4 linked regions of the Homo sapiens genome follow. The protein of the gene in region 1 interacts with the protein of each later gene in a pairwise test. Each region holds a gene or a part of one and is shown in the gene's direction. Other genes may lie near its edges. The genes, in order: HTR2A, PON2, ANKS1B and RPS6KA3.

Region 1 (7,028 bases):
CCTGGCAGAGAAACCCCTCCGAGGGCCGACATCTGTTCCGAACAGACAGAGCGTGGCTTCCCCCATAAGGCGCTGCAAAGGAAAAGGCTTTCCTTTCGGCTCAAGCTCTTTGCAAATAATACATGTGAATGGCTGTAAATTAGGCTTGTACCTACGCCCTTTACTTGTCTAAATATCCCTTGTGGCATTTTGGTAGAGAGTGTACGTTTGCGTTGGAGTTTGTTCGGCTTTGTGGGTCTGTAATAAGAAAAGTGGACTTTAAAATTTTCCTTCTTACATGCAGGCAGATCTAACTCCGCTGCTTATACTGTGATCAAAACTAATTAAGGTTTACATAACTGCTTAATCCCCCTCCAAAACACAAAACCAGGACACTTTGTTTATGTCCATAAAGCACACTCTAACCTTCCTCATATAGCAGGTGACCTGCAGTATCTCTTACATTGGAATTGTCTGGGGAGCTTGGAAAAAGCTTTGCAAACGCTTTGACATTTGATGTCCACCTCAGCCCACCCTCCAAACATGATTTAATTGGGCTGGGTTTGGCATGGGCATCAGGACCTTCTCTAAAGCTCTCCAGCTGATACTGATGTGCAGCCAGGGGTGAGAGCCACTACCCTAAAGCAGCTATTCACAAAGCGTGGTCCCTGGACCAGCAGCATCAGCATCACCCGGGAGCTTGCTAATTCAGATGCAAATTCTACAGCCTGCTCCCTACTAACTGCATCAGAACCTCTGGACGGAGGTCCAGCAGTGTGTGTTTTAAGAGGTGTGGCAGAGTCTGATGCTCACTAAAGTTTGAGAAATGCCTCCCTAAAACAAAGCTCAGAGCAAGGACACCTTTCTTTATTTTTCTTCACCCTTGTCTTCAGCTCTCCCTACACATACCCCAAATTTGAGTTTGGCACCCAAAGCATTATTAGATCATTATTTTTCATTTTTACAAACAGACATATTCACAATCTGAATTTTTAGTCATTTAGTCATTTGCACTAATGCAATTTATTGCCATCACTGTATGGGACTGGATGGTTATAATAATGACTAAGAGGTGAGACTAACCTTAGGGAAATACAATCCAGAGAAATATGTGACTAAATCCTGACAGTACAGTGTGAGAGGTGCTCCAGAAGAGGAGCCAAAACACAAATTTTGACATAAGCCATTAACAAAAGAAATGTTTTGCCAGGCGTAAGGGGGAAGAAAGAGAACCCCCAAATAGAGACCATCCAAGCTTACCGTGCCACACTCACATAACTCCAGACACTAGAAATTTTCAAACCCTGCATTCATCAGCCAGTGCTAGCTTATCATAGTTAAGTACAGTTGCCAGTGGGCTTTTTTCAAATACTAAAAATATATTGTGTTGCCCTTTGCCACCACCTGTGCCTGTCCCAGAGCTGGAAATTGTCATAGGATAGGGATACATGTGCTCCAGGAGGCACAGGGTTGCTCACTGACACCAACCTTCTGCCTCATAGGGTACCGGTGGCCTCTGCCGAGCAAGCTTTGTGCAGTCTGGATTTACCTGGACGTGCTCTTCTCCACGGCCTCCATCATGCACCTCTGCGCCATCTCGCTGGACCGCTACGTCGCCATCCAGAATCCCATCCACCACAGCCGCTTCAACTCCAGAACTAAGGCATTTCTGAAAATCATTGCTGTTTGGACCATATCAGTAGGTAAGTGGCAACATATTTCAGAGTCTCATTTGAAATGACAGTTCGTGCTTTCTGAAAAGACTTGTTCCATTTTGTTGTACTGAAACCTGACATCCTCAATCTACTGTTTTGGGTGGTGCAAGATATGTTACAACATCATAATTATCAGATTCGCTTCAGGAAAGAAAAATCTGTTTATGTCACTGGCTGACAACATGAATTTGTATTGCTTTGCACAGGCAAAACTATAAACAGTAGAGCCAAAAAGTCAGAAATAACTGTGCTGTTTTCCCTATTTCTTACTTTCAAGTCCACGACTCTAATTCTTGGGTTTCCCAAAGACCTCAACTTTTATAATCACTGAACTTATGATCAACGTAAGGATGCAGACCACTTTGCTAGAGAACATAAAGCCTCTGGGCTCTAGAGAAAGGTACCATGTGCTGTAGCTTGGAGGGAAAAGGTGGGCCAGAGGAAAGTGCCAGGATTTGCTTTGGGGCAAGGCTGCTTTTCAGTCCGACCCAGTGTCCCTATTGACCTTCCTCCTTTTATGATACCACACACCAAAGGATTTCAACTTGCTTCTGTTAGGTTGATTACATATATTCATCTCTCGCCAGTATTGATCTTCTGTCACACACCTAATAGTCAGAAAAGCCCAGGTAATGGAAGCTAAGGGGGCGGGTCTCAGGCAGTGAAGTGAATTGTACCTGTCAACCTCAGCAGCTTGGTTGGTAACCAAAGATTCTCTGACATTCATTTTAAAATCCAAAAGCTTAGCAGGCAGGAGTGTTGCACCTGTTTATGGCCACGCCAGTGCCAGCATCCGCTAATATGAGAGACTATGAGATTCCACCGCTTGAAATCAAGGGCTTGAGTGAGCTTATCCACAGCATTGGAATAATAGTACCAATAATAAGAGCCAACACAATAATACTATATCTTGTGTATTTTAGTTCCCATTGTTTTCTTTGCTGCTAGCAATGGGAACTATTATGCAATTTGAAGAGTAAGTAGCTCCATCTTATAGATGAGGAAAAACTGGGATTCAAAAAGCAAAATGAGCTGTGCAAAGCCCCACAGCCAGTAAGTAGCACAACAAGGATTTTATTGAATTCTGATGGGAACATCTGATGGAAACACTAACAAATCACACTTGTGTCACTTTCAAATGTTTAAAAAGTCTTACCTACTTCCTATTTTAAATTTCCCATTACCGTTTGAGATAGAAGATTCTATGGTGCTTATTTGATAAATGAGGAAACCAGAATACAGAGGTATTGTGGCTTACTGGATCATGTCTCCAACTTGCAGCAGGACTAGGACTCTAAACTTCCAGCACCATGCCCTGTTCTTTCTGTACCTTCCTTAGGAAACAGTTTTTGCTCCTAGAAAATGCTTGTAGTTTCTGGGACTGTGCAAGTTGGACTCATTCTACTAAGAGCAAGAAAGTGAAGGGCCAGTAACCACTCAATCCCAATTACACATAAAATGCCCCTGGGAACATTCTGATTTAATTGCCTAGGGTGAGGCCAGGTGATTCTAAGGGGCAGTCAGAGTTGAAGACCACTGAGACAGGTTTTCAGGGTGGTCAGCGTGATAAGTAGGAGAATCAAGATTAATGCAGAGGGAGCAAATGAAGCTATTTATTTTTACCCTGATACACTGTCCATAGTTTTACCCCAATATACTGTGCCATTGGTGAGACAAATGCTGGGAAGGTCAACCATCTTTTCCTCAGCCACACTGACTCCCCCATCTCATTCAGGCTTCATGATAACACCAGTAGTAAGGTAACAGTTTCTGAGCACTGAGTACGGACCCAGTAGTATACAAAGCCCCTTAAAGAAAATCAGCTTCAGAGAACTCAGTTGCACAGGATGATATCACTTATAATCAGGAGTCAATATGGGTCAATCTGAGTCCAAAGCCCATGCTCTTTCCACTGCACAAAAGATAGCCAGAAAGAGCCAGAGGCAGACTATCACCACAGGAGGCAGGCAGGCTGGAATGATTGTGGTGGTGCCAGGCAGGGATCATTCATCCATCCACTTGGCCAGTCTTTTTGAGATGAAGTTTCGCTCTTGTTGCCCAGGCTGGAGTGCAATGGTGCTATCTTGGCTCACCGCAACCTCCGCCTCCCGCATTCAAGCTATTCTCCTGCCTCAGCCTCCTGAGTAGCTGGGATTACAGGCATGTGCCACCACGCCCGGCTAATTTTGCATTTTTAGTAGAGACAAGGTTTCTCCATGTTGGTCAGGCTAGTCTCGAACTCCCGACCTCAGGTGATCCCCCTACCTTGGCCTCCCAAAGTGCTGGGATTACAGTCATGAGCCACTGCCCCCACATTTGACCAGTCTTGTAATGTGCATCTACTATGTGTTTGGCACTGTATAGACCAAGATGAAAAAGATATGCATTCAAAGATCTCTCACAGTAAGGTAGGAGAAGACAAGGAAACAAAAGAATAAAAAAAAGTTACATAGAATCTATACTAGAAGTCTGAGGTGTGTGCCCTGAGGAGGGGGCAAGCGGAAAATGTAAAAAGGAAAAAGGCAGATCTAATGAAGGACCTACAGAGACTCAGCACAAATATTCTCTTGAGTTTTCTTCTAGTGTTTCTGTTTTGATTATTTTGCTTTGGGTTTAGTTTTTTGTTTGCTTTGTGTGTGGTTTCTTTTAATTTAGATCCTTAGTCTAGCTGGAATTTTAAAATATGATCTAACTTGTTTGCTTCTACTAGTAACTAAAGCTTTTTTTAGACTCAATTGATATTTTCTCTTCAAGCTATTGATATGTTCACTCTCTTGGTAAATTTCTAAATGTAATACTGTCTTACATTCCTGGAATATTGAGTTTGTATGACAAAGTTGGTTGGTTTATGATTCTTACAAGTTTTCTTTTTCTAGCTTTATTAAATGATAGAGAAGTTTCCACTTTCCCTAAGTCTTGAAGTCTTTAAGTAGAAATTACATGTTTTTGAGAGGTTATGTAGAACTTGGTTCCAAATCTCTTCATCCTGGCTCCTTTTTAAATAGTATTTTAAGTTACATTTCTAACTTCTATAGTTATTGCATTTACATTTTCTATACCTTCATGGGTTATTAGCTGCATACAAATTTTAACCTTTACATTGATTCTTTTATCATTAACTGTCCCACTTTATATCTAGTGATGCTTCTTGATTTAAAATCTATTTGATCTTAGTATAGCTACGTTAATTTTCTTTTGATTATCATTTTTGGATATATCTTATTTCATCCTGTTACTTTCAAACCTTTTGTGACTTTAAAGTGTTAGCCTGTAAGCAGCATATAAAGTTTTGTTTTTAACCCCATCTTTGTCTTTTAGTTGGAGTATTTAGTCCTTTTACATATAATGTTAACTCATATTTGGGTTTAAATCTGTTATCTTACAATTTGCTATTTTCTTATTTGTTCTATATTCTAGTTTCTTTTCATTCTTACCTTCTTTTGGACTAATCAAGAATTGTCAATTCATCATTCCCCTTTATGAGCTTGTTATCCATTGTTTTAAATTACTTCAATGATTACAACATTCCTTATTGACCTTAGAGTCTAAAACAAATTATTACTTGTAACACTTCTCGGATAGTGCAAAAACTTTAGAACCTTTTAGCTCCATCTATCCCTGTTGTCTTTTGGGTTTTTCCCTATTTACTAAATGTCTTTTTTAAACCCATAAGACATCATTATAGCCATTCTATTCACTATTTCTCACATATTAACCCCTGTTGCTGTTTATTGCTTTCTTCATTTTCATGATTTTGCCTGGGTTCCTCATTCCTGAAGAATTTCCTCTAGAATATCATGTCGTTTGTTCTGTTTTTCTTATCCTAAGCATCTTTATTTTGCTTTCATTTCAAACACATTTTTGTTCAGTATAGAATTCTAGGTTGACAGTCATCTTTTTTTTTTTTCAGCACTTCATAGGTGGCAAATCCAACATTCCAGGCTTATATTTTTTGTTTGTAAGAATCCAGCTGTCAGTCTTATTTTTATTCCTTCAGAAACATCACCTTGTGCCACGCCCTGCTGCTTCAGAATGTTTTGTCTCTATTTTAGCAACTTTATCATGATGTACTTAGTTGTGAATTAGTTTCTGTTTTTATCCTGCATGGTGTATGTACTGATTCTTAAACTTGTGACTTTGGCCACTTTGACAAAACTCTTGGTCACCATCTTTTCAAATATTGCTTCTGCCCCATTCTCTCTCTTCCTCATGTCTGGGACTCCAATCTCATGTATGCTAAACCTTTTACCTAAGTTCTTTATAACTCAAGCACTTCTACATTTTTTTTTTTGCTTTGTTCTTCAACTTTTAAGTTCAGGGGTACATGTGCAGGATGTGCAGGTTTGTTACATGGGTAAACGTGTGCCATGGTGGTTTGCTGCACAGATCATCCCATTACCCAGGTATTAAGCCCAGCATCCATTAGTTATTCTTCCTGATGCTCTCCCTCCCACCTCCCCCCACCAACAGGCCCCAGTGTGTGTTGATCCCCACCATGTGTCCACGTGTTCTCACGATTCAGCTCCCACATATTAGTGAGAACATGCAGTGTTAAACACTTCTACATTTTGTACATTTTTCTCCTTTTATTTCTTGAGATAGCTTTACTGACTTTTCTTCTTCTGTTACTAGTCCTCTCATCAGCTACTTCTAATCTGCCTAAGACCCATCTCTTGTTTTCTTAATTTTAATTCCTACACTTTTAGTTCTAGATTTTTTCATTTAATTCTTTATAAATTCCAGGTTTTTAGAATAATTCTCCATGTTTTCATCTATTTTCTTAAATATTAATCACAAGTTATCTGGATCTCTCTTTTCTGGGTTGTGGGATTACCTAGGGATTTCTCTTTTCTGAGTTTTGGGGTTGTTTTTCTCTTCATTCTGTCTGTTGATATGTCTGGTAATTTTTTTAATTGAGTACTGTGTATGCCTGATAATTTTTTTTTTTTTTTTTTGAGACAGAGTCTCACTCTGTCGCCCCCGCTGGAGTGCAGTGGCGCGATCTCGGCTCACTGCAAGCTCCACCTCCTGGGTTCACGCCATTCTCCTGCCTCAGCCTCCCAAGTAGCTGGGACTACAGGCGCCCGCCACCACACCCGGCTAAATTTTTTTTTGTATTTTTAGTAGAGATGGGGTTTCACCATGTTAGCCAGGATGGTCTCGATCTACTGACCTCATGATCCGCCCGCCTCGGCATCCCAAAGTGCCGGGATTACAGGCATGAGCCACTGCGCCTGGCCGCCTGGTAATTCTTTTTAATTGAATACTGGACACTGAAATAAAATGTTTGGGTGTTTTGTTGATACTGCCTTTCTCCAGAGTGGAGTCTTTTAG
Region 2 (7,028 bases), on another chromosome or scaffold:
GCCATTTTCTCTTGGCTTCTTTGCAGTCTCTGTGTGAGGCTTACAGTCATTTTTCACGTTTGACTCTTCAGAAGGAAGACAGGGCTACTGGTTCTACATCTGGAACTCTTTTCCCACAACACCAACACTGAGAAATGTGACATGGTGCTGTGTTTACATTTGCATAGGAACTTGCATTATAAGTTTTATTTGTTGAGTTATTGGCTTTTTTTTTTTAATAACCCACATCAGTATATAGAACTTTGCAATAGGCATTTTTGTTTTAACTTCATTTCTGGTGCAGTTTTATTTTCCTACCCTTGTCTTTCTATTTTCTCTTTCATCTGCTTTAGACTTAAACTGTGTTTTATGTATTGCTGTAAGCCTCTTTAAACCCTTTCTAAAACAAAGCAGGGAATACATAAACAAATAGTTTTTTGTTTTTTGTTTTTTTTTCTTTGTAACAGAAATCGACTTAAAGCCTCCAGAGAAGTAGAATCTGTAGACCTTCCACACTGCCACCTGATTAAAGGAATTGGTATGTATATGAAAATGCTTGTTGGGCACATTGCATTTTTTGGCCATTAACATTAAAACACTCATTAATGGCATTTTAGCATGAAATTACTGCTTTTCAGTGGATAAATCACATTAGATCAACAAAAACCTCTTTGGTCAACCTCTTGATCTGATGAACCCTGTATTTATTCTTCTTTCCTACCCTCACTGTAAATTATTCTTTTTTGTGTGTAATTCTATGTTTAGCATTTGATTTCTTGCTTGTTTTGTGACTTCTCTGAACTATTTTTGTTGCGTCTGTATTGTTTGTCAGGTATGGCCGCTGCAGTCTGTGTTCTGTGAGCCTTGTGGTCAGCTAGTGAAGGAAGCTTTATGTAGGCAGTGACAGCATTTACCCTGCTCACTACTCTATAACTAGGATCTGATCTTATGGCTAACACGTAACTGACCAATATGGTTTGGTTGTGTCCCCACCCGAATCTCATCTTGAATTGTAGTTCCCATAATCCCCACGTGTTGTGGGAGGGACCCAGTGAGAGGTCATTGAATCATGAGGTGGTTACCCTGTGCTGCTGTTCTCGTGATAGTGAGTGAGTTCTCATGAGATCTGATGGTTTTATAAGGGCTTTTCCCCCTTTTGCTCGGCACTTCTCCTTGCTGCCGCCATGTGAAGAAGGGTGTGTTTTCTTCCCCTTCCACCAAGATTGTAAGTTTCCTGAAGCCTCCCCAACCACACGGAACAGTGAGTCAATTAAACCTCTTTCCTTTATAAATTACCCGGTCTCAGGTATGTCTTTATTAGCAGCCTGAGAACGGACTGATGTACCGGCACTTCACAATATGTATTGTAAAAACTTGTTTTTATTTTATCTTCTAAGCTATGACTGCAGAGGGGGAGTCTCCCTCTTCCCTTGACTTTATGTAGGATGTATTGTGGAGTCTGAGTCTTTGAGTAGGGGTTCCTAAGAGCAAGCCCCAATTTTGCTATAGATAAGGAGGGATCTGTCCAGATTCTTCTCCAGCACTGAGGGTCTCTCTGGTGTGTTTGCAGTTTTTCTCCAAGGTAGAGTCTGTGTCTTGCTGTCTTTTACCCTTTATCATCTACTAAGTACATGTCCCTAGTACATAATAGACTAGTAGTTAGATTATCAATGAACAATAAATATTGGCTTTCCTTTTTTTTAAATTTTAATTTTTTTTTTTTTTTTTTTTGAGAGGTGGCCTCACTTTGTCACCCAGGCCAGAATGCAGTAGCGCAATCTTGGCTCACTGCAGCCCTGATATCCTGGGCTCAAGCGATCCTCCCGCCTCGTCCTCCCAGGTAGCTGAGACTACAGGCACATGCCCCCACTCATGGCTAGTTTTTTATTTTTGTAGAGACAGGGTCTTGTTATGTTGTCCAGGCTGGTCTTGAACTCCTGGCCTCAAGCAATCCTCCCAGCTTGGTCTCCCAAAGTGCTGGGATTGCAGGCATGAGGCACTGAGCCCAGCCAATATTGGCTTTCCTTAGATATGGTTCATGGTATGATTAGAAACAAAAAGAATTAGCAGTCAAAACACCTAGTTTCTAGTTCTATTCTGCCACAATGTAACCTTAGGCAAAGTTGGTTTTTGTATTTGTCACCTATAATGATGAGTTTGTGATTAGACTAATGGTTTTTAGACTTTAAAAAGCCTGGGACCATTTATTTATAATCTTACTCTGAGAGCCACAGTGTGGAAATAACTAGACTGTCATTGAGTCACTTCTAGTCCTTTACAACAACATCCTTCTCTAGAGGTAGGAGAGACAATTTAATATTTTGTTTTACTCTTTAGAAATTAAAACTCGGGTTACATGGAAATGTTCTCTTCTCTGAATAGGTAACATTGTTAAACAAGTTTTGAGTGTCCTTCCATCTTTTTCTTTTTATGAATACTCCTGTACATAATTTTTAAAAACATAAGTGAGGTCAAATTATGCATAATATTTCAAAACTAGCTTTTTGTACTTAATACTAGGTTTTGGAAACTTATGTTTGTACATAATGTTACCTTTTCTTCACAACTGCACAGTATTTTTTGTGCAAAGTTCATATAAACAGTGTATGTGCAAACAATATAGAAAGATATAAAATGGAAAGTAAATAAAAATAAAAATCTCTCATCAAACTCTTCATCACCCCCAACAGAAATAACCCCAAAGATAAAGCTCCCTTTTTTATCTTTCCTGATAGTTTCAGTGCATTTGCAAACAAATATATTGACTCTTTTTTTCACAAATAGAATTTTAGTGTAAATATTTCACAACCTTCTTCATTCCTAAAACAGTGTGAGCAGCTTTCCACATCAGCATATATAGTTACTTTGTTCTTTTTAATATTTTCACATTCCATGATTTATTTAACCATTCCCCTTTTAATGTACATTTGGGTTGTTACAGTTTTTTGCAACTATGAACAAATCAGTGAACATCATTGCTGTTGAGTTTGTGTGTCTGTAGAATATGTCCTTAACAATGGGATTGTTGTTCCCTTAGAATATGTGTTTAGAGTTTTGACAGTCATTGCTAAGTTGCTCTCAATTTGGCAACAGTAATAAACTCAGTACCTCATAGTTGTAACCACATTCACTCCAGACAGAGTTCTCAGCACTCTTTTAGTAAAAATAAACCATCAGTTGACAGTGCCACCTTCAGAGTTTCTCTACAAATACCTTGCTTGCCTCCCTTTCTTTTTTTCTTCTTTTAAATCAGCTTCCTCAGGTTGATCTGCCTCTCATTCCTTAGGCATCTGTTTCCTATGTGTTCTTTCTCCTTTTTTTCATTGATACTTTTGTATTTCCCCAGTTCTACCTCCCCTCCCCTAGACTGGTTGGCTGTCCTGGAATTTCCCTTCCTTCTTTCAATTGCCCAAACACTAAGTGGGAGGAGGCAAACTCATATCAAATAGCAGATTGACTACATCTGTGCTGGATCATGCAGACAGTTCAAGAGTCCCAAGTAACTTAGCAGCTTCATCTTGCCTTCCAGCTGCAATCAAGAAGAGCCCTCTCAGAACTGGTCACTCAGCAAAAGCCAGATGGCATTAGTAAAAGATGTTGGGCAAGGGTGGGAGTTTGGGCCAGTGATCTCTTAGGTTACTTTTGCTGCTGAGTTAATAATTGTCACATTATTAAACAGCCCTTGGCCCTGGGAAGCCCACCTTCTGTGAATACAAGTCTCAGAGTAGACAATAGGGCACAACCAGCCATGTTACATGACAGACTGCCAAGTGCATTCCTCTTACAACTCACTGGGATGGAGCGCTCCTCAGAGAAAAACAAGCCCAGCAACATTTGTATTCTGAACAGGCATCTGTCTATGTTTGTGACCTTTATGTTGTGATGTGTGTGAGCTGCTGTCTGGAATTGGAAAGAATGAGGAAATATGTCACCTATGGCCCCTCTTGTGAAGTGTTAAATGCCTCTGAGGCACTTCAAAAGGCAACAGAGCGGAGAGGATGAGTGATTAGAAGCACATTTGGGATACATTTTTAGATCTAATTAGAATTGTCCTTTTTTTTTTCTTTTTTGCTTTTGCCCTGTGGTTAGCACACACCATATGAACGTTTGTCGAATGCTATGTTAGTGATGCATAATGGTTAATAATAACTTTTGGTTATATATCTTTAACAACAGTTGCTTATTCACAGGTCTTTGATAAGAAGAAATAACAATGTGCTGGACACACATTTCTATACAGGCAAAAGTGACTTTTTATGATAGAGAGGGCTGTTTCTTATTTTCTGTTTTGAAAACAGTAGTAGCTATGCACTTGAGGCCAACTAATCCCTCTAAGAGGTGAACCTTCCTTCCCCCTTGCCCTTGATTCCCATCAACACACACATACATATGCACACACTACCGTGCTTCAGTCACCATCACTGGAAGTGAACTATGTGCAACTTTTGGGTGCTTTATATATATCATATCATATTGTGTCTGCTTTAATAAATCATAGTTATTGACTACATATCATACAGGATGTGTGCCTTCTGTGGGTCAGAAAATAAGTTCACTATTTAGTCCTTTTCAAAAATTCCTTCCCGATCTATCTTATAGACAGAAACTAAGCTTTTATACACCCAAGATTTGGCAGATTAACATCTGCATATTAAAATGTCAAGAGCTAGTTAACTTTATTTGAGGCTTAAAAGTTAAAAAATCTGATTTTCTAAATGTCTGGCCTTCAAAATTTGAGTGGACTGTCTTTCTCAAGATAACTAACAATTTTATGCACTTGGCAGTCAAGACCTTTACAATAACTGCTGCTTGGGAGATTGAGGGGAAAAAAGCATTAAAGTTTGTGGCCCTTATAATCAAGTACTTTACAGTCTACTGATGGGAGAAAAGGAAAACAAAACAAAACAAAAAACCACTGTGAGATATAGATATGTCTTTTCTTTCTCTAGCAGATAAGTACCTGAGGCTCAAGGAGGTTAAGCAACTTTTGCAAATTCACTTTCCAATATAGTGTCTTTTCCCAGGGTGACTAATGTATATACTTGATGAGTGAACCAGAAAAGTAGGAAATAATATGTTACATATGGGATGCTCTATTGGGTATAGTAAAGGATGCGTTGCTGTTATAAAATTATAGTCACTTAGAAAAGAGATGTTTATTTTTATTTTTCTCTCATCAGTCTTAAGGTAAGTGAATGGCCTAGGGTAGTTAGGTGACTGTGTTCCATATGGTCATTCAGGGGCAAATGCTGATGAAGCAACACAGCTGTCTTCATCTAAGACTAGAACTCTGCTTGTTGCCATTTCCCAGCAGGAAGGGGTTGAAAGAAAATTTATGTAGATTTTTTTTTCTACCCAGTAGTTGCATATATATTGTATTCTCACATCCTATTGACCCAAACTTAGACATATGGCCACATCTGTCAGCCAGAAAGGGTGGGCAATGTTATCTATAGCTGTGTTGCTACGTGCCTATTGCTAAAAAGGCTAAAAAGGAAGAAGGGGAACATGGATGCTGGTGAACACTTGGCCACCTCTGACACAGATAATTGCTAAAGTAATAAGAAGAGATGGAAATTAAATGTGCTAAGCTAGGAGACTTTCTAAAGAAAGGGTTTGTCATGCTACGCTGTGCCATTCATGTGTTTTTTTGCTCATGCTGTTCCTTGTGCCTGGAAATTCTCCCCCTAATTCCCCTGAGCAGTGGATGCAGTGGATACCCTCCCCAGATCCCCCCCAACTTCCCTGAGTGTTGGCTACCAAAAGCTCTGAGTGCACCCAGGGAGCTAAGTCCTCCTGCCCACAGGCAATAATGGACTGACACGGGGTAGACTTAAAGAAATAAGAGGCACATCAATCAATTGAAATGTGTGGGACCTTACCTGGACTCTGAATTAAACAAACTGTAATTTTTTAAAGCTACACCTTTTAAACATGATTGGCTATTTGAACACTAACTAGATATTTGATGATATTGAGGAATTATTGTGAATTTTTAGTGTAGTAATGATATTGTGGTTTGTATAAATATATTTAGGGATAATATGATGCCTCAGATTTGCTTTAAAATAACACAGGATGAGGATAAGTGGTAGGACTGCAAGGGAAACAAGACTGGCCATGAGCTGATAACTGTTGAAGGTGGGTACTGGGTATATAAGGGCTCACCACACCATTCTCTTGATTTGTGTCTATTTCCCATAATAAAAAGTTTAAAGAGAGAGAACCGATGAAGGGGAGGGAGAGAGTCAAGCACACAATAAGAGTGACAAACAGTGCCAAATCAGCCCACAGTATTAAGTTTTCACATATTTACATAAATATCACCTGGAATGCAATATTGAAATTAATGTATATCACTAGAATAAAAAAAGTAAAGATTTAATAAATTTGTTTTGAAATAAAATAAGTTGAAATACGAAAAAGACAGAAAAGGTTTTGAAAGAGGTTTTAAAGAAAAGTGCAGGATATTCATTGGTAAAGATGTTGGTGAGAGGCTTGGAAGCAAAACTTCAGGGGAAAAAGACAACATATGGAATTGACCACAATTGAATTTACAAGTGAAGTGGCTTTACAGAGGAATCAGGGGATGTTTCTGAGAGAGGAAATTCATTAAATTCTAACTTGAATATTTTCTGTTTGCCTTTAAGTCAGAGCAAAGGCTTTGAGTCCCAGCTTCCCAGTTTGTGACCTTGAGCAATTGCTTAACTTTTCCAAAGCCTCCAATAGTCTTCACTCTAAAATAAAAGATAATCATATGAGATATTGTATGCAGGGTATTTACAAGGAGCCTGGTACTTGGTGTACCTAATGTATGTTAGTTATTATTATTAAATTAGAGGAGCAAAAATTTCTCTAGCATTGACTGCTCCTGACATAATCACACCGAAGAGGGGATACACGATGATAAAACCTTCCTGCAGTAGTGGCTATAGAAATGATGACGGGGAGAAGATCTGGAAAATATTCCAAAGAAGGCTACAGATAGATACATTTTTTCCATTGGAATTAGGCAATGGAGTTAAACAGAAGTTACAATATGGTTGAAA
Region 3 (7,028 bases), on another chromosome or scaffold:
AGAAATTTATTGGCAGGATAATGGAAAATGTGTCCCCCGTCAAACATAATGACACTTTGAAATTTCTTAATGTTTTAGAAGGAACTGTAGAATATGTTTGGCACTTTTTCCCCGCTTGCTTTATTACCTGGGTTGTGTAATAATGGTGTCAGACCCTATGCTAAGTGCTTACACGTGTCATCTCATTCAATTCTTGTGTCAGCCTTAGGAGGTCCATTGTCATTTCACAGATGAAGGAATAAAAAGATAAGATTAAGGACTTGCCCATGGTCACTTAATTAATAATGGCAAAGATTTGAAAATCTGTGATTCAGATTTGTTTTACAACATTTTAAGTCTCATTCATTGAATCTGTTTTATTCACAAAAGTTTAAAGGTATGTGGCCAATTTAGACAGGCCAATCTGAACATTTTTTGCTATGAAGAATAATTTGAAATTCCTTAAATTTTGGTATTTTTTTCTAATTAAAAAAATCTCACAACTGCCCTTTGAGGGTTCACTAGACAAGAACTTTTCTGAAGATGCTTCTGATTACTTGTTATCTACTGGTAATAAGAAATTATCCTTTCAACAGTAACTATGTAATGGGGAATCAGGTATGCTTTTGGGTGGCACTGCAATTTTCAGCAAATGTAAGAATGCCATTGAATAAATTTAAAAACCTCTCTAAGCCTCACTATTCTATCAGAGTGGAAATAGTAATAATAGTACCTATCATATAAGATCATTATAAGGATTAAATGAAGTATAAAGTAATGAATGCAAAACATTTAGCATATAGGTGTTCATCGTTAGTGTTAATATTTTTCATGCACCTCTAAAGCACTTGACTGTATTCTTTAAGGCCTTAATGACTAAAGATTTGCTTCCTATTGGACTGGGAGTAAATTTCCCATAGCAATCATAGAATCGTCAAATAAGGAGGGAACTTTCTTCCAACTTCTCACCTAGTGCGGAAATTTTCTCTGTAACATTTCTTACCTGTTAGTTATTCCAGCCCTGTTAAACCTTCCAATGACTAGATTCATTCTATTTTTGACAGCTGTAATTATTTTAAAATTTTTCTTTTCATTGAGCTAAAATCCACTTCCCTGTGACTTTCAGCAATTGGTAGTAGATTGGCTGTATGGGTCAATATAAAGCAGTCTAATTCATCTGCAGGATAGTTCTTTAGATGCATGTATTTTTGTTTTCTTATAAGTATTTTTCATGGAAGAGCTATCATCTCTGTTAACCTTTTATATGGCAAGACAGCATAGATGTTAAGAACTTAGTTTTCATACTTTTCTCTACTCTCTCTTTCCTTCTTTACATATTCTCAAATTTTGCAATGACCCTCTTAAAGTATGGTGACTAGAAATTCACAAAATGCAGTAGATGTCCCTTGACCAGAGTAGAACATTATGGCTGAATAAGAAAACCAAGGACAGCAGGTTACAAGAAGCATTTATAGTATGATCTTATTTTTGCAAGAAAAAATAAGTTTGTTTGAACACTTATAATGTGCTTAAGAAGTCTGGAATGATAAGATGCCAAAATGAAGATAGTATTCATCTTTGAGTGGTGGAATTGTGGTTGGGCTTTATTTTCAGTGTTCTGTAATGAATATGTATTATGTAATTAAAATAAAATAGCAGCTATTAAAACATGATACAATGAAATTATTATCTCTTTATTATTGATCTAAGACCTACCTACAGGTCAAGATTTTCTGGGCCATGTAATGGTGTTGGCTCATGTTGAACATACAGTCAATTAAAATTTCCTGGTATTTTTTTTTTTCAATGACCTGTGAAGCCAGGTCCCCTTTCTGGTACTTTTAAAAGTGTTGATTGAGCTTAAATTATTCCTGTTCCTTTTTATCTGATTTGTTTTATGTTGTATTTGTAATTTCTCTATATCTTTTTGACTCTTTTTTTTCTTCTTTCTGACTCTTGAGTCTGTCTTTCAGCGTATTAACTTCTCTCCCCTGTATCATCCAGAGATGTAATAAGCATGTTTTCTATAACCTAAATTCAACACACTGTGCTATATCCCCAAAGCACCTCTCTTCAACTTAGTATAAATTTAAAAGTAACAGTCTTTACTCATGGTATTTCTACCAGGATTGAAGCCACGCAATGACAATCAGCTATTTCTCTCCATTGTTCCTGTGAGAATATTGTGAGGTATTTTATCTACTGCCTTTCTAAATTCACACTGTATTTAAGTGTATGGCATTCTTTTGATCTATCCTTTAAATTCCATCAAAATCAGTCTACTTTATTATGGCTTGTTTCTGGCAGTGAGCCATTGGTAATTCCTAGTATTGGCAAAAATTCCTTCTACCCTCTTGCATCTAATTCTTCTGGGTCTGGATATGCATACTTATTTAAAGCAGCTTACTGTCCCTTATGGTCTCGTTTGGACCTTCAGTAATCTCCTGAAGTTATTTGTTTATCCCTTCTGATTTGAAAATGGTTCTCAATAGGGAAAATAGAAGCAAAATAAAAGTTGGGAAGAATTAGATTCTTGGCATTGTTAGATATCATAGAAAATTATCTTGTGGTTTAAAACTACCCACAGTTTTCCTTTTACTCTGCCAGAACTGAAGGTGAAATTAGTGAACTGTTACACCTCTTTTCTCTTTTTCAAACTTAGCTAAAAAGGACATTAGCATTTTTCCTGGACAAGTATATATTTCTTTTTTTGTGTTTGCTTGCAGTTATACCTCTTACTACCCCCTTTCATCCTTAAAGAAATCTGAGCTCATCAGAGCACTAAAATTGAGTTGCCTCCCTCCTTTTCTTCCTCTACATTTTATGTGAAATTTCAGTTTATTTAACATATCTTTTATGAGACAGCTGCAAAATCTTAAAAAAAAACCTCTCTTCCTTTGGCACAACTACCTTTTATTCTAAACAAAACTAATTTCCATTTAAAATGTATATTTAATTAATTTTTTGCTGAGTATAGGATAGAGAATTATTTGTATTTTAATACAGTGATAAAACTTTATTAATGCCTCAATTTATTTGATTTTCTTAATGCCTCGAAGAGTTGAGTTTTATATAAGGTGTATTTAGTAAATTCTTGTCAGAAATAAATAATACAGTTCTTAAGATCCCCATGTGAAAAAGTAGATCAATAAGAAGTGGAGCAAAACAATCTTCTGGTCACCAAAAACATAAAAACCAGAGAGCTTATAATTTTTCAGATTTAGGATTCAGCTCATGTCATTTTGGTGATGAATACAGGGAGATAACAGACAACTAGGAAGTACTGTAATTTTCACAACTATTTGGGCAATTGTGGTTATTGGGACCCTGATATAAGAAACTCACTTTCAGGGAAACTGCATTGGTTAAATGGAATAAATCACAAATAGAGCAGTTAAGCTCCATGAAAATGTTATATCTATAAAAATAGTCAAGTTGCAAGTGGGTTATCTATTTTAGATAGTAATGATGTTTGAAGTGGTGATTGCACCATTATGTTCAGGGAGCTGTATCTGCCAGAGTGAACAGTGCCAGCTGCATGATGGGGAGTAAGGAGAAAGGAGGGTGAATTTTGGTATTGACCTCTTTCTCCACTGAGCAGGGTTTTCAGCTCCCTTTTCAAAACACTGAGGGTGATGTGTAGCAGTGAACTAGGGCAGCCAGCCAGTGACTACTACTCAACCTGTCCATCCATTGCACAGTTTCTTGTGTGACTCGATTTCTTACAGATGACAAAGGCTGATGCAAGTCTTCACTGACATTAAGGCAGAAGCATATAATATTTATTAGTGCCTCTGCTGACTTTAGCAACTTAACCTTTCAGGTGACAGTAAACAATTTGATTAGTTCAGTTATATACTGAAATAATTTTGAGGTAATTTTGGAAAATTCTATCAGAAGCCTATGATAGAACATTATTCCTGAGTATTTAACTAGAAATGGAAGCTGACTATAATGCCAGACAAAGGTTAGAAAAGACTAATTTCAACCTATGGAACCTGAAGATATTTAACACTTAATGCATTTTAGAGTGTCTTTAGTTTCCGTTTTGGACATATTGCAGAATGATGTTAGTTAATTAAAATACAGTGAGTTTTTATTACTCATCATATGTTGATATGGGAGAATATTTTATATTTGAAAAAGGAATTTACAAAGAAGACGCTTCTATCTTCCAGTTCTTTCTCATGCATGTGAGGACATGGTTATGTAAGCCGTACGGGCAGGCAGAGGCACAATGCCAGTTGAAAACTCATTGAATTTTCTTGTGTAATACAGATCTAGAAACTTTTCTTAAGAGTCTACTTTTCTTCTTTGGTGTCAGTAGGATATCAAATACATTTTACATTTGTGTTAAATCTGGATGAGGCTTTTAATTGATATTTGAAGATGGATCAAAAAATATGACCAAAGGATAAATTTTGTTTTCCACAGTGCTATGATTTGAGTGTTGTCTCCAAAACTCATGTTGAAATTTATTTGTCATTGTGACAGTATGAAGAGATGGGATCTGTCTGGACGTGGTGGCTCACACCTGTAATCGCAGGCTTTGGGAGGCTGAGACGGGAGTATCACTTGAGGCCAGGGGTTCAAGAATAGCCTAGGCAACATAGTGAGACCCTGTCTCTATAAAAAACAAAACAAAACAAAATGGCCAGGTGTGGCATTGCACGTCTGTAGCCCCAACTACTTGAGAGGCTGGGTGGGGAGAATTGCTTGAACCCAGGAGTTTGAGGCTGCAGTGAGCAATGATCATGCCCCTGAACTCCAGCCTAGGTGACAGAGTGAGACCCTACTCAAAATAAAAACAAAACAAACAGGTGAGATCTTTTAGAGGTGATTAGGCCATGAGGGCTCTGCATGTATGAATGGATTAATGCCATTATTGTGGGAGTGGGTTAGGTGTCATGGGAGGCTCCTCACAAAATAATGAGTTCAGCCCAATTTCCTCTTTCTGTTGCCCATGCTTGCTTGCCCTTCTGCCTTCTGCCATGGGATGATGCAATAAGAAGGTCCTCACCAAATGCTGAGCAAATGCTAGTACCATGCTCTTTTACTTCCCAGCATCCAGAAATGTGAATCACAAAAACATACATTGTTTGTAAACTACCCAGTCTCAGGTACTCTCTTATAGGAACACAAAATAGACTAAGACACTCTGTTTCTTCTACTGCACTGTCCAGAGTGTTCATCTCTGAATCTGATTCTTATGAATCATGTTTCTTATTAAATGACATGTCTTCATGGATCTAGTTGTGAAATGGAACTTTGATTAAGCTGTGCAGTAGAGTTATTTGGATTCTATTGTGTTATGAGAGTAGCTTTATTTGAAGTGGTTAATCACTTCTAGTTAACTGAACTGAAACAAACTGCTTAGACTTGTTACCATTCTTTGATCAAATTGGATCAAATCTTGATTGATGGATGTGAGCATAAACAGCCAACCTCCTTTCCTGTTTCTATTTCCCACACCACATTCCCTTTAACCCTCCTCAATCACATCTCAGAAAAAAAGCGTTTTTTTCTAATTACTACAAGTTCACCCTGGCTCCAGTTTTTGTGCCAGCTGGCATCATCTCTAGATTCCAGCCTATCTGAATATTTAAAAAAAATTTTCAACAGATTTTAGATACAGGAAGTATGTATGTAGATTAGTTACATGGAAATATTGCATGACACTGAGGTTTGGAGCATGGATCCTGTCACCTAGGTAGTGAGCATAGTACCTAATAGGCTGTTTTTTAATCTACCCCCCTTCCACCCTCTAGTAGTCCACTGTGTCTTTCGTTCCCTTATTTATGTCCACATATGCTTTATATTTAGCTCCCACTTATAAGTGAGAACATGTGGTATTTGGTCTTCTGTTCCTGTGTTAATTTTCTTAGGATTATGGCCTCCAGCTCCATCCATGTTGCTGCAGAGGACATGGATTCATTCTTTTTTATGGCTACCTAGTATTCCATGGTGTATATGTACCACATTTTCTTGTCCAGTCTACCATTGATGGGCATCTAGATTGATTCCATGTCTTTGCTATTGTGCATAGCACAGCAATGAACATGAATGCATGTGTCTTTTTGGTAGAATGATTTATTTTCTTTTGGGTATATACACAGCAATGGGATTGCTGGGTCGAATGGTAGCAATTTTAGGTTCTTTGAGAAATCTCTGTACTACCTTCCACACTGACAGACAACCTACAGAATGGGAGAAGATATTTGCAATCTGTGTATCTGACAAAGGCCTAATATCCAGAAGCTATAGGGAACTTAAGTCAACAAGCAAAAAACAAGTAACTCTATTAAAAAATGAGTAAAGTACATGAACAGACATTTCTCAAAAGAAGACATACAAGTGGCCAACAAACATAAAAAATGCTCAGCATCACTAGTTATCAGAGAAATGCAAATCAAAACCACAGTGAGAGATAGCATCTCACACTAGTCAGAATGGCTGTTATTTAAAAGTCGAAAGACAATAGATGCTGGTGAGGCTGCAGAGGAAAGGGAATGCTTATACCTCAATGTTAATTTATCCTCTAACGTCATGGACCCAGTGCCTTTTCTTTCCTTTCTTTACCACCAAAAAGTGTTTGTGGGACCTGACAGTTAATTCATAGTGAAGTTGTAATTGATTGGTAAAGCTTTTAGAAAGAAGCAGCTCTTTTCGTATTTTCATTTAAAGAGGCAACAAAACATTAGGCCAAAATAGTAAAGCCATCGACCTCTTCTGGCAGAACAAATGGAGTGGATTTTGCCAGGCTCGTAAGAGAATGTTGGATACAGGTGGTAATTCTTCCATTTTTTTGGAGACAAGTTCTCACTCTGTCACCCAGGCCGGGGTGCTGTGGTGCAATCACAGCTTACTGCAGCCTCATTGCCCCCCAGGGTCAAGTGATTCTCATGTCTTAGACCCCAAGTAGCTGGGACTACCAGCATGTGCCACCATGCCCAACCAATTTTTTGATTTTTTTTTATAAGGACAGAGCCTCACTGTTCCTCAAACTCCTGCCATACATAGTGATTCTTCTGATGAATCTGTGCAAAGTA
Region 4 (6,939 bases), on another chromosome or scaffold:
TTTTGGGATTTTCTACAGTAGTGACAAATCTATATGTACAGAGCTGTGAACTTTGGATGTATATGAGGTAGAGATTGTGCCATGAGCCATAGTTAGTCATCTTGCAACTTTTCCAGACTGATGTAACTCTATTTTTTGAACAAATGTTATTTTGTTAAATAAATGCCCATTTAAACTTGTATACAAAGGTTATAATTATAGCAGGAAATTGTTGGGGGCAGAGGAGGTTAAATCTAGTTGTCCCGTCATACATTAGGAATGATTTCTTGGAAACCTCCTTCAGATTTTCTACTGAGGTTTGCTGTTTCGCTCTACTGTAGTTTCAAGTAAGAACTTTCCAATATTTTGGTTCTGACTGGGAGATTTGTTGGGGAGGGTGGGGATCAGTAGGTAACTGAATCAGCCCTTTCTGCTGATTCTGCACTAAGGAAGCCAAAAAGACATTGGAATCTGAAGATATCACTTAACATTATATGACTTGTAGGAATACATAAAAGTCTCGAAAGCCACATATGTAAGTATACATTTATAGTAGCCACATTAAAAAGTTTTTAAAAGGTGAAATTAATTTTAATGAAATATTTTATTTAACCCAATATATCAAAAATATCATTTCAACATGTTGTGAATATAAAAAATTATTAATGAGATACTTTATATTCTTTTTTTTTTTTTTTTACTAAGTCTGAAATCTAGAAAGAACTTCACATTTACAGCACATCTCAACTTTGACCAGCCAACCTCATTTGAAGTGCTCAGTAGCCATGTGTGGCTACTAACCACCGTATTAACCCATGCAGGTCTGGCGATCTGAGGCAGCTATTCTTTGAACAGCTACACTTAGAGTTTTCCTTTGTTAAACAGAGGGGAAAAGTAATCCTGCTTAGGGCAATATCAGCTTCTATGTTCAAGTAACTCTTTTTGCTACCACCTTCAAGAAAAATCCTCCAGCCTCATTTGATTTTTCCAAATTCTCCTAACCAAAGAGAGTGGTTGCACTGCTCTTGGATTTAATAGAAGAAATAAAAGAGAAAAAGTTTATTGTTAACAACAAAAAATCATTTTCTTTGCTTTTGGGGCAAAAGGAAGAATAATGTTCTTCTAAATAAATTCAATCAATTCATAAATACTTATCAAATTGATCCTCTGTGCAAGACATCTGTGGTAGTGGTACTTTAACTGGTTTGTTTGTTTGTTTGTTTGTTTGTTTTTGAGACAGAATTTTGATCTTGTCGCCCAGGCTGGAGTGCAATGGCACGATCTCGGCTCACTGCAACCTCCGTCTCCCGGGTTCAAGCGATTCTCCTGCCTCAGTCTTCCGAGTAGCTGGCATTACGGGTGTGCACTCCCGGCTAATTTTGTATTTTTAGTAGAGACCGGGTTTCACCATGTCGGCCAGGCTAGTCTGGAACTCCTGAGCTCAGGTAATCCGCCCACCTGGGCCTCCCAAAGTGCTGGGATTACAGGGGTGAGCCACCGCACCCGGCCACTTTAACCCATTATTAACAGTTCATGTAATGCTTAATTCACTGAAACGTGACCACCGCTCACATTACTTTTACAGATCAGGTAACTCTGTTTTAAAAGTTATTCCTCTGGTTCTCAAGGTTAACAGAGATGAATAAAAGTTGATACTGAAAATGGCATACAATTTGCTTTATTTTAAAATATTCATTCTTTGCGTGGGGGTAATTAGCACTGAACAGTGTTAGCCACATAACGGTCTCTCTTCAACTATGTATGTTTTTACTAATGCAAGAATGTTAACTGAAATAATTGATCAAAGGGTAGGGGGAGCTAATTTACTTTAAGCCAACCGAATTAACGAACTTCTTTTCGCTATAAGGAGTGGTCATGTGACTCTGCAATGTAAATGAATAAAGCATTTTGTACATAAATGCAAAATAGTACACAACTCCTTATCCTCCAAACTTCTGCAAGCACGTTTTACCGTCGGGAATTACACAGAGAAGGTGCTGCCAAATTAGCTGAGTTTGGGCCCAGGTTGGATTTGCAACACCTGAATATAGCATGTGAAGGGAAGTGACAAAGGCAAGAGCCAAGTGGCCCCATTCGCCTTCTTCCCCAGACCACGTTGAGTCTGCCCAGATGTTGTCCAACCTGAGCGGTCCCCCTGAGTCCAAAGCTTCGGGAGAAGGCGCGCAACGAGGACTTCCTGCCGCCTTCTCAGGCTCCCTAAACAGTTGGAGCCTCCCTAAATGGCCACGAGGTTCCCCGGCCTCGAGCCTGTGCCAAGGGGCGCGCTGGCGAAGGCAGCAGAAAGAGCCCAACACCTGCCTCTCGCAGGCCCAGCGAGAAACCTCGCACCGCCCGCGCAGACCTGGCCGGCTGGGTTTGGGGCTCTAATCTCATCCTCACACCTGCTTAGGGAGGCAGGCGAGGGTTCTCCAGGTGTCTGGGTCCCGGGAGGATGAAAGGAAGCTGTTAATAGGCGTGCGCTGGGAGCGCAGCAGCGGACGCGCCGTGGTCGCTGGGCGTGGGAAGACCGGGATGCCTGGGCCACGGCCTGAGGGTTTGAAGGGACAGGCCGGCTCGGAGATCTCCCTTTGCTTTTTCTCTTCCCCTCGCTGGGCGACTAGCCAGGGGCTGCAGTAGCTTTCCACTCAGCCCTGCGACTTTTACACATTTCTGCCCGGGCGCACTTAGCGCGCAGCGGCTCCTGGCGCAGTGAACACAGGGTCGAGTCCTCTTGGGACGCACCCCGGACGCCCAGGCCTTCCCCCCAAAGCTCTCGCCGTCCTGTGGGGCTCCGTCGCCGTCGGGGCATTGGGTTTCCTTAATCCAGGGCTTCCCCATCTTGGGCAGGAGGAGGAGTCAGAACCCCTCCCCTCCCTCTGTCCCCCTCCTCCTCCTCCTCCGCCCACGGCCAGCCTGATTTTTAAATCTAATCTCTTATTTAAAGTCAACAGAGGAGCAGGAACCCCGCGCTCCTGCCTACAAGATATTTTTAAATAATTCTCCAACCTCTACCGAGAGGGACAGCCTTAAGGAACCTCCCTGTTTTCCCCTCTTGAAGATTTAGGTAGCAGACGTGGGGCGGGGGGCAGCGGTTCCAGGGTCGCAGCTGAAGGCCGAGAGCTCTGCGCACTTGGGGAGGAGAATTTGGGCTGGGGGCGGTGCGGGGGAAGCGACTAATACAAGAGGAATTAATCCCAAATAGCCACAATTTAACAAAAGAGCGTCAACTTGAAAAGACTTGAATCAAACCGGGAGCCGAGCCCCCAGGAGGCTCCTAGGCACGAAGCCTCCCTTGCCTCCGTCGGGGGAGATGGGGGGCAGGTGATTTCCCAGCATGTGACCCTGAAGAGGGAGGGTCTTGGGCCATTACGGGATGCGCCCAGAGACTAGGCGCGTCCGCACGCACGCACCCCCGGAGGAGACAAGCCGAAAAGACACTCCGCACCCCTCCCCGGGTCCTTGGCTCGGGACTGCGCCCCCGGTACTTTGCCCACCTCCCTCCCCAGCTGGGCGGGGACCACTGTTCTCCCTCATTCCCAAGGAGCCTCCGACCTCCTTGGACCCTTGGCGGTGAAAGGCTCCCAGCCTTCGCCCCTCCTGCCTTTCCCATTTCTTTCCCCCGCCTCCCGCCGACGCCCCCAGATCTGTTGGGCTCGCCCTTCCTGAAAGTAGGCGAGGCCCAGAAGCTGAGGTTGGGGCGCAGAAGGAGGGGGGTGGGAAGAGGGAGGAGCGGAGCGCAGCGGCCGGGGGCGTGTCTTCCACTAGCCCAGCCCCTGGGTGCGCGCGGCGGTGGTGGCGGCGGCCGAGCCTCGCTTTGAGAGACAGGTATCGCTTAGGCGCCATGTTGTGAGCGGAAGTGGGGGAGCGCGCGGCGGTCGCTGTTCTGCTGGGAGCGGGCGCGGGAACCGGCGGGGGGGGCGGAGCCGTAGTCCCGGCGGCGGAAGGAGGAGAGGAAGAAAGGGGCGAGACCCGGTGCCCAGCGGAGGCGCGAGGCTCTCGCTCAGCGCGCGGGCGTCTCTGGCCAGGCGCGCGGCTTTCGGGCGGTCGGCGTCGGCGTCGAGCCCTCTCTGGGGCCGCCGCCGCTGCTGCTGCTGCTGCCGCTGCCGCTGCCGCTGCCGCCGCCGCCGCCGCCGCCGCCGCTGCCGTGGGGCTCGGGCGGCGACGGAGCGGGGCCGGCCGTGGGGCGGGCGGGGAGGGAGGAGGCGGTGAAGGCGGCGGGCCGGGGGGGAAGATGCCGCTGGCGCAGCTGGCGGACCCGTGGCAGAAGATGGCTGTGGAGAGCCCGTCCGACAGCGCTGAGGTGAGTGCAGCAGGGCGGCCGGGGCCGGCGCATCTCCTCCTCGCGCCCCCGCCGGCTCGCTTCGCTCCCCGGAGCTGGCCACTCGGCCCGTTCTGATCCCGCTCGCGTCTTTCCCCCGGGCTCAGGGTTTTGGTTTGGGTTGTTGGGGTGGGTCTATTGGCCGGTCTGTCTGTTCCTTCCATCCTCACCCTCACCTCCTTCCCTCGCTCGGGGGGCTGCCAGTGTGGTGGCGCGTGGGGTTTGGAGTGGGCGCTGGGGCTTTGCAAGAAGCCAATTTTAATCAACTTTGCGTGGGGGAAGCGGGAGGCGGAGCGGGGGCCGGCGGGGAGTTGGGAAGTTTGGCCCAGCCGGGTCGGGGGCTTTCCCGGACCTTGGCGACTTTGGGAGATGAGGGAGGGGTAGGGATCGGGTTCACCGGGGAGCAGGGACTCTCGAGTCCAGCCGAGGGAGGGGCTGCTGCGGGGAGACCGGCGCGCGGGGCACGGGCGGCGGCGACCTGTGGGGGTTTCGGGTAGGGGGTGCAGGGTTTTGCCTCCCCCTCGTCTGCCGCAGCGGTTTCTGCTGCTGCAAAGAAGAAAGCGGAAGCCTAAGGTCCCCTACCCCCTCCGTTTCTGAGGTCGCAGAGCTAGACCCCCGTCCCTGTGAGTTTAACTTGAGTTTCCTGTCCATGGAGGTGAGAGGGTGATATTCAAGGAGATCAGCGGCCGCCGTAAAAGGCTTTCTGGTTTTCCTCGCCCGGGATCTGGTGACCGTCCCTGAGTCACCCATCCTAGTGCCCAAAACCCAAACAATATACCCAAACAGGGCAAAACAGAATTTCCCCGGGCGCATCACTACACCGAGCTTTCCTGAACCGCCCCTATCCCAGAACAACTCGGGGTCTGCGAAAATAATCCAGACAAGACCCGTTCCAAGGTATCACCGCTCCTCTCCGGAGTGGAAAATCAATTCCTGATGGTGGCGCGTCTGTGATTCTTCCTTCTTGACTTTTTGCTGCCTTCTCTCCCCGCAGCGGACTTTAGGGGATTACAGGATGATAGGCTGCGTGTGTGTAATAGTTACTGAGTGAGTGACCCCATTTCTGGAAAGCATGACTGAAACGCGGGGGTGGAACGGGGCAGGCTCTGATGAGTGGTGTGCTTGGCGGCAGCCGCTGCCCTGCCGGCCTCCGCAGTGTGAGAAGTAGATAGGGTTACTGGTTACGTCAGTAAAACCGAGGCTCAGTTTAATCTTGAGATGCGGGACACTTGCATTCTCCGGTATAATGGAGAGGGCGGGGGATCAGTTCAAATCGCTTTTCACTTTTTCCCCCAGTCACCTCCGCTGCTGTATAACAATTTTGCTTGTTCTCCTTAACGCACGCAGAGTTGTAATAGTGCTTATGATTGGTGCTTAGTATTTTGCGACTTGGATCATACTTGTAAAACCTGAACTAAATGCTGCTCTTCAATGGAAAAGACATTGATATATGTTGAAAGAAAAGGAAAGAAAGAAAGGAAATCATGTTTTTAAGACTGGCAGAATCACAAGAACTTTATTTAAAATTGTTAACCAGACTAATACTATAAATATTTTATTAAAAAGCCAAATTTATGATGTTTAATAATCCTTTAGATGGGTAGTGTGAAAAACAGTATGCAAGAGCTCGTCATATTTTTCCCCAGAAAATTTTTTGCATTAAATAATATAGCTAAAAGGTTAATAAAATGTTCGCAAAGTACTGAACTTGTGGAAAGAAATTAAATTTGCTTTGAGCCTGACTTTTACATACAAACATTAACAATTGCAACTCAAGATCAGTCCACATTTCTGCTTGGCATGTATCAGTGTGATAGGAAAACAATATCGTTTAGAATTCCACCTTATCCTTTTTCTATCTGGAATGCATTTGGATAAGGAAGGACAAAACATATTTATTTAGCACCAACTGTATGCCAGGTACTGTGCTACATTACTATTTCATTTTATCCTTCCTGTGACCCAGCAGGGTAGGATTATGGTCCCCATTGTTATAGATTAGGAAACCAAATCTCAGAATTTAAAAGGTACAAAGATGATAAATAGTAAATGGCAGAGCCATAATTCAAAGCCAGGTGGATACAATTCATGTGCTTCGTTTTATATCAGGGTAGCTGTTCCAAATCTTTTGTGGAAAAATTCGGGGTATAAATAAGCCAGTAGTTAGAGGTCATCTATTTTCCAGAAACAAATAGAGTATTATAAGAGGTCTCATTTGGTAAAGCCTTGTTATTTCAGTTACTATCATGTTTTCCAGAACTTGACAGATAGGATTCCACAATTTGCTGTTTTCAAAGAATTTTCTTGCTATCCTGGCATAAAGTATGTCAAACAGAGCCAGTGTTGCCAAGATTTATTAAAATTAAATTCTAACAAATTGCCTTTAGATATTTAATTTCCTTTGCTTGTTCAGCTATTTCAAGTAAATTACTTCTGATACAATTTGGAAATATTGAAGACAGTGAGGGAAAGGTTGAAAAGTTCCACTCAGAGGTCTAATATTTTCACTATTATACCGTTTCCTCCCCCAGTAGGTTCCTATCAGATAATTGTATTTTACCAGAGTAACATAGTTTTTTTTAGAGTCATTTACTTGAGTGAATACATCAAAATATTTCTCTCCAGGTTAAAAGATTTCAGGA

Evidence for each region.
Region 2: the proteins of HTR2A (region 1) and PON2 interact in a two-hybrid assay, tested with the Homo sapiens proteins (one study listed by IntAct).
Region 3: the proteins of HTR2A (region 1) and ANKS1B interact in a two-hybrid assay, tested with the Homo sapiens proteins (one study listed by IntAct).
Region 4: the proteins of HTR2A (region 1) and RPS6KA3 interact in a two-hybrid assay, tested with the Homo sapiens proteins (one study listed by IntAct).

Annotation. Positions count from the first base shown.
Region 1 is NC_000013.11:46,887,044-46,894,071, reverse strand, and holds part of HTR2A (5-hydroxytryptamine receptor 2A), read left to right. Parts: intron 1-1,481; coding exon 1,482-1,682; intron 1,683-7,028. UniProt on the Homo sapiens protein: G-protein coupled receptor for 5-hydroxytryptamine (serotonin).
Region 2 is NC_000007.14:95,418,004-95,425,031, reverse strand, and holds part of PON2 (serum paraoxonase/arylesterase 2), read left to right. Parts: intron 1-446; coding exon 447-517; intron 518-1,343; exon of another isoform or gene 1,344-6,716; intron 6,717-7,028. UniProt on the Homo sapiens protein: Capable of hydrolyzing lactones and a number of aromatic carboxylic acid esters. Has antioxidant activity. Is not associated with high density lipoprotein.
Region 3 is NC_000012.12:99,974,912-99,981,939, reverse strand, and holds part of ANKS1B (ankyrin repeat and sterile alpha motif domain-containing protein 1B), read left to right. Parts: intron 1-7,028. UniProt on the Homo sapiens protein: Isoform 2 may participate in the regulation of nucleoplasmic coilin protein interactions in neuronal and transformed cells. Isoform 3 can regulate global protein synthesis by altering nucleolar numbers.
Region 4 is NC_000023.11:20,263,904-20,270,842, reverse strand, and holds the start of RPS6KA3 (ribosomal protein S6 kinase alpha-3), read left to right. Parts: upstream 1-3,933; 5' UTR 3,934-4,210; coding exon 4,211-4,279; intron 4,280-6,939. UniProt on the Homo sapiens protein: Serine/threonine-protein kinase that acts downstream of ERK (MAPK1/ERK2 and MAPK3/ERK1) signaling and mediates mitogenic and stress-induced activation of the transcription factors CREB1, ETV1/ER81 and NR4A1/NUR77, regulates translation through RPS6 and EIF4B phosphorylation, and mediates cellular proliferation, survival, and differentiation by modulating mTOR signaling and repressing pro-apoptotic function of BAD and DAPK1.